Regions from separate parts of the Homo sapiens genome. Here region 1 is linked to region 2. The links come from fine-mapping of genetic effects on gene expression. Tissue or cell type: whole blood. Region 2 holds a variant in brackets; the other region holds the start of a gene. All regions are shown on one strand. Distances are from middle to middle.

Region 1 (2,658 bases), 32 kb before region 2:
AATCATTGCAGGAATCCCAGCTGATTATACAGTCGCCTTTCAGGCCAGAACCCAATAAAAAATCAAGAAAGGATCGCCCGTTCTATTACTGCGCTGCTCCCTCCCCTCGTAGATTTCACAAATATACTTCTCACCACAAGCTTGTCTGTTCCAAGAGAATGCTAGCTCTTCTAAAGAAGGAGCCCTTTGTTTTCCTTGCCCTTGTCCAGTTCCTCTGCATACCTCTAGCACCTAGAGCAACAACTGCTATACAGGAGCCCAGATGTGGAACAGAGCAAAGAACTGAGTGTTGATTTAATGTTGCCTGAAGTCCTTAACAGCACCTTCAACCTAAACTTAACTGTGTTTTTAATCCCCTACACGTGTAATCCCTGTATGTGTGCGCAGCGTTAAAAGGATTATTGTAGCTCAAAAATTCTCCAATGAAAGAACCTCTACCAGAAAGGAGTTGCTCATCTTTCGTTCTTGAAAAGTTGGCTGCACGATACAAGTAAGAAAAGTTTTAGTTAGGCAAGACAACTTATACATAAAAGACAATTATAGGGAACATTACCTAACTTAGCACAGGGCCTCGAATGTATTCCGAAATTAAATCAGCATGTAGAAAGCAAGCCTCCTCATGCTTTTTAAAGTGTAATCTCGCGACCTCGCGGCGCGCTCTGGGAAGACCGATTCATCTCTTCCCCTCGCCCTCTTTCCCCGGCCGGCGCACAGCCGGCCCGTGGCGCTCGGCACCGCGTCTCCACGTCCAGCGCGGGGCAGGCCTGCGCGGCGCTTGCAAGGGACAAGCCGCGGAGCCGGGGAGGCTCGCCGTCTGGGACACGTTTGGAGAAGCGAGCGGTACAGTCCATTCCACGGCGACATTTTAGGATTCTCCCACTGACAACACTAAACTGAAGCGCTAAGACCAACCCTTACGACCACTTACCGTCGCAGGCCACGGTGGTGACTTCCTTTTCCGCTCCCCTACACACGCTTTTCCGTTTTGCGTGCCTTTGTTTCCGCTCCCCCCGGGACCATCGTGCGCCCCTGTCCTCCGTTCTTGTAGGTCCTCTCCTCTTCTCCGCGTCTTCTCTTTTACTATCCCACGCTCTCCTTTCCTTTCTCCGGGAACTTTATCCCGTTCCCCTGCCGGTTCCCGTGACCCCGGAAATCCCGCTCCTGCCGCGAGGCGCCCTCCGCTTCGCGCTCCCTCGTGTCACGAGGGAGCCAGGGTGGGCGGTCTCCTATTGTACTTGGCTTTTGAATTTTCGCTTTTGCAGCACAAAGGTAGGGCTGGGAAAGGAGGCTGCCGAACCGTGCTTGTTTTCGCTCAGATAAACGTGAGAAAAAGTGGAGGTGAGGAAGCCAGTGTAGGCAAATAGCGAGAGGGGAGAAGACAGAAAGGTACCGAAGGTCGACCTTTTTTAGGTATCTTATCCAAGTTATTGAGGGGAATGGGTATTTAGCCAGTTTTTTGTTTGTTTGTTTTTATCCGAATATCCAGTGTGTGTCTTGAATGTGTGAATGTGACGTGTTTATAAAGCTCAGTAAGCTTAAAATTCCGTGCCAATACATTTTGTATGCCGCAGACAGGAAGTGCTTTGGAAGACCCTTGAAAGGGGAGGTGATTTTACACCAATATTGAGATCATTTTGTCAGAGTCGTGGGACTAAAGGTAGACCTTAGGTAGTCGATGTCAAAGATAAGCGCAGCTGGACGTTAAAGCGGTGAAAACATTCAGTTAACTACTGACAGGAAAGAGCTGAGCTCTATTTCGATTCGTGCAGAGATCATCTGGGCATTTTTAAAGGGACGTTTTAAAAGGAGAAAGGGGATATGCGGGCGCTCAGTAGAGAAAGTGAACCTACAGAGTTGTTAGTGTAAATGTGATTAGGCCAGCTGTGTGTTTGTGTGTGCGCGCGTTTTAACAGTTACCGCAGGATTCTATCCTCCTACGGAGGATTTTATCCTTCTCGATTACATTTCAAAGGAATGACTCTCTGGTCCTTGAGAGAGAACTTCTGAGTGGCAAGAAATAAGTCTTTACAATTGCAAGCCCTTTAGTAAACGTTCTAAGAAAGGGATGTCAGAGACCTATCATCAGTTGTGTGCTGGTTACATCACGTAGTTAAGCTTTCTGAGGCAGTCGCCCTGGGCACAGGGCCTTATGCTGCTAAAGCTTGCTAGAGTTTGGTCAAGTCTCTGAACGCAGGGGTTTAGATGGGATGGTCATGTTCCTGGAGTTCTGCAGTGGTCATAGGTATGATTTGAATAAGTACAGGGAATATTCTAGTCGGAGGAACAGAATGTGCCAACGCGCCGAACAGGGAGGATAGTTTTACGATACGGAGATGTGTATGATAGGGAATAAGTGGGAGCCCAGTTTGGACTAATTGGAAGAAGTCATTATTAGAAGTACTGTATTTAATTCTAGTTTGTTATAAAATGAGACTCCAAGATCACTGAGCCATTTCACTGAGACTCCAAGATCACCCCAATGCTAGGCTAATCTCCATGGCGCCTAGATCTATGCCCACTCCATTCCCCATGTTGGTCCCCATAGTTTCAGGCACCAGGCTCCAACACCAGGTTGGGCCCTACAGCCCCAGTCTCCAGGTTGGCACCAGTGGATATAGGCTTTAGGTCCACTGACTGCTGGTCCCTACAGCCCCAGGT
Region 2 (2,852 bases):
AGGTGTAGACATAGATTGCCAACTATTCCTGCAGATAATACTACTATTGCCGATTGGCCTTTTGAGATATCTTTTCAGTTTTTTTTTCACGTCTAACACTACCTGGACCCTCCAACCCTGCTCCTGTGGCCCCACCCAGAATTTATTCAGTACAAGAGGACAGCTTTGACCCCCTTTGATTTCATCTCCACCCCAACCAATCAGCACCAAGCCTAGCGACCTCCACCCCTTCACCCAAACTGCCTATGCAAAACCCCTAATTTAGAAGCTTTAGGGAGAATTATTGCAGTACTAACTCCATCTTCTGTGTGGTGTGGCTGGCCTGATGTCTAATTAAACTCTTTCTTTACTGCAATGCCATGGTCTGTCTTTGTGCAGGAGGCAGGAGGAACCCTTTGGGCAGTTACATTAGTATTTCTTATAAGATAGGATCACTAACAATTCTGTCAGTTTTTGTTTGTCTGGGATTGTCCTTGTTTCATCTTCGTTGTGCCGCTTTTAAGATGTTCTTTTTGGGCCAGGCGCAGTGGCTCACGCCTGTAATCCCAGCACTTTGGGAGGATGAGGTGGGTGGATCACAAGGTCAGGAGTTCAAGACCAGCCTGTCCAACATAGTGAAACCCCGTCTCTACTAAAAATACAAAAAATTAGCTGGGCGTGGTGGTGGGCACCTGTAATCCCAGCTACTTGGGAGGCTGAGGCAGGAGAATCCCTTGAACCCGGGAGGTGGAGGTTGGAGTGAGCCGAGATTGCGCCATTGCACTCCAGCCCAGGCGACAGCACAAGACTCCATCTCAAAAAATAAATAAATAAATAAATAAATAAAAATAAGTTCTTTTTGTCTTTGACTTTCAACCCTTTAACTATGATGTTTCTATGTATAGCGCTCTGCTTTTCCTACTTGGAGCTTGTTAACCCTCTTGGATATATATATATTGTTTTTCCTCAAATTTGGGAAATTTTTAGTTATTATTTCTTTGAATAGTTTTTTTCTACTCTTCTGGTAATCCTATTATATGTATGTTGGTGAGTTTCTTAGTGTCACACATTCCTCTGGGACTCTTTTTATTTTTCTTTATTCTTTTTTTCTTTCTGCTTTTTGGGTATTATTCTCTATTAGCCTGTCTTCATGCTTCAGGTTTGCTCATTTCTTCTTCTGCCAGTTCAAATCTGTAGTTGAGCCCTATAGTAATTTTTAAATTTTGATTCCAGTCAGTACTTTCAACCTTTCAACTTCAGGATTTCTATTTGGTCTTTTTTTTTTTTTTCTTGAGATGGAGTTTTGCTCTTGTTGCCCAGGCTGGAGTACAATGGTGTGATCTCGGCTCACTGCAAACTCCGCCTCCCAGGTTCAAGCAATTCTTCTGCCCCAGCCTCCCAAGCAGCTGGGATTACAGGCATGCGCCACCATGCCGGGCTAATTTTATATTTTTAGTAGAGACTGAGTTACTCTGTGTTGGTCTGGCTGGTCTCGAACTCTTGACCTCAGGTGATCTGCCCACCTGGGCCTCTGAAAGTGCTGAGATTACAGGCATGAGCCACTGTGTCTGGCCTGG[TC/T]CTTTTTTTTTTTTTTTTTTTTTTAGATAATTTATTTTTAATATATTCTCTCTTTAATGAGATATTACCATCATACATTTCTTTTCTTTTTTTTTTTTTTTGAAATGGAGTCTTGCTCTGTCGCACAGGCTGGAGTGCAGTGGCACAATCTCGGCTCACTGCAAGCTCTGCCTCCTAGGTTCATGCCATTCTCCTGCCTCAGCCCAAGTAACTGGGACTACAGGCACTCGCCACCATGCCTGACTAATTTTTTTTTGTATTTTTAGTAGAGACAGGGTTTCGCCGTGTTAGCCAGGATGGTCTCGATCTCCTGACCTCATGATCCGACTGCCTCAGCCTCCCAAAGTCCTGGGATTACAGGCGTGAGCCACCAGGCCCGGCCCTGTGTGTGTGTGTCACACATTTTTGTTGCTTTTCATGTCTCTTTTTTTTCTTTCTGAAAACTAGACACTTAAATAATATATTGTAGCAATTGTGGATATAATTGTCCCTCATTTCATGGTGCTTGTTATTATTTGCCTGTTTTTTCATTTAGCTTCTGATGGCACTATTTTACTGGGAAGCCTTTGATGTTGCTCCTTAGAGGGCACAACCTTGGGCATGGGAACATTCAGCTGAGATGAGAGCAGCTTTAGCAGTGCTCTCTTTGACTCTTTCCTTCATCACACCCAGCTGTTAGCCTTCTTTAATTCCTGGCTGATTGCCTTTTTAAATTTAAGATGCCCTTGGGCTAATTTTTGTATTTTTAGTAGAGACAGGGTTTCACCATGTTGGCCAGGCTGGTCTCGAACTCCTGATCTCAGGTGATCTGCCTAACTCGGCCTCCCAAAGTGCTGGGATTACAGGCCTGAGCCACAGTGCCCGACCTCCTTTACTTTCTTAATAAACTTGTTTTCACTTTACTTTATGGACTCACCTTGAATTCTTTCTTGCGTGATATCCAAGAACCCTCTCTTGGGGTCTGGATCAGGAAGGCTTTCCTGTAGCAAAGGCAGTGTCACAAAACAAGCTACTGCAATGGGCAAATGGAGCCTAATCCCATGGTGAAGCTCTGGAACGCCATGGAACACATGTGTAAAAGGCTGATTCTATTGAGGGCATGATGACAGCTGTGTTGTGACCCCATACAAGTGAGTCACTGGTTCAGGTCTGTTCCTGGAGACCATCAATTTGTGGGTACTTCTGGCTTGCCATGTTCTCCAGCCAAGTCTGAGGGCAGCTCTCTGATGCAAATGCAGTAACTAGCTGTCAGAAAACCTGCTGGCTTGCACGGAAGGTATGGTTCTGGACAGTGT

What was found. PIP is the estimated chance that this variant, and not a neighbour inherited with it, causes the effect.
Region 1: ECHDC1 starts here. The variant in region 2 is fine-mapped to the expression of ECHDC1 in whole blood (INTERVAL, PIP above 0.99).

What each region holds. Positions count from the first base shown.
Region 1 is chr6:127,342,408-127,345,065 of GRCh38, forward strand. ECHDC1 (ethylmalonyl-CoA decarboxylase 1) reads right to left here and starts at 1,202. Exons shown (of 6, transcript NM_001002030.2): 1 at 929-1,202. RefSeq lists enhancers at 487-1,360, 2,235-2,658.
Region 2 is chr6:127,374,191-127,377,042 of GRCh38, forward strand. No RefSeq gene overlaps it. Among named protein-coding and RNA genes, the nearest start is that of ECHDC1, 32 kb to the left of the region's middle. The variant TC/T (reference allele first, on the strand shown) is at 1,557.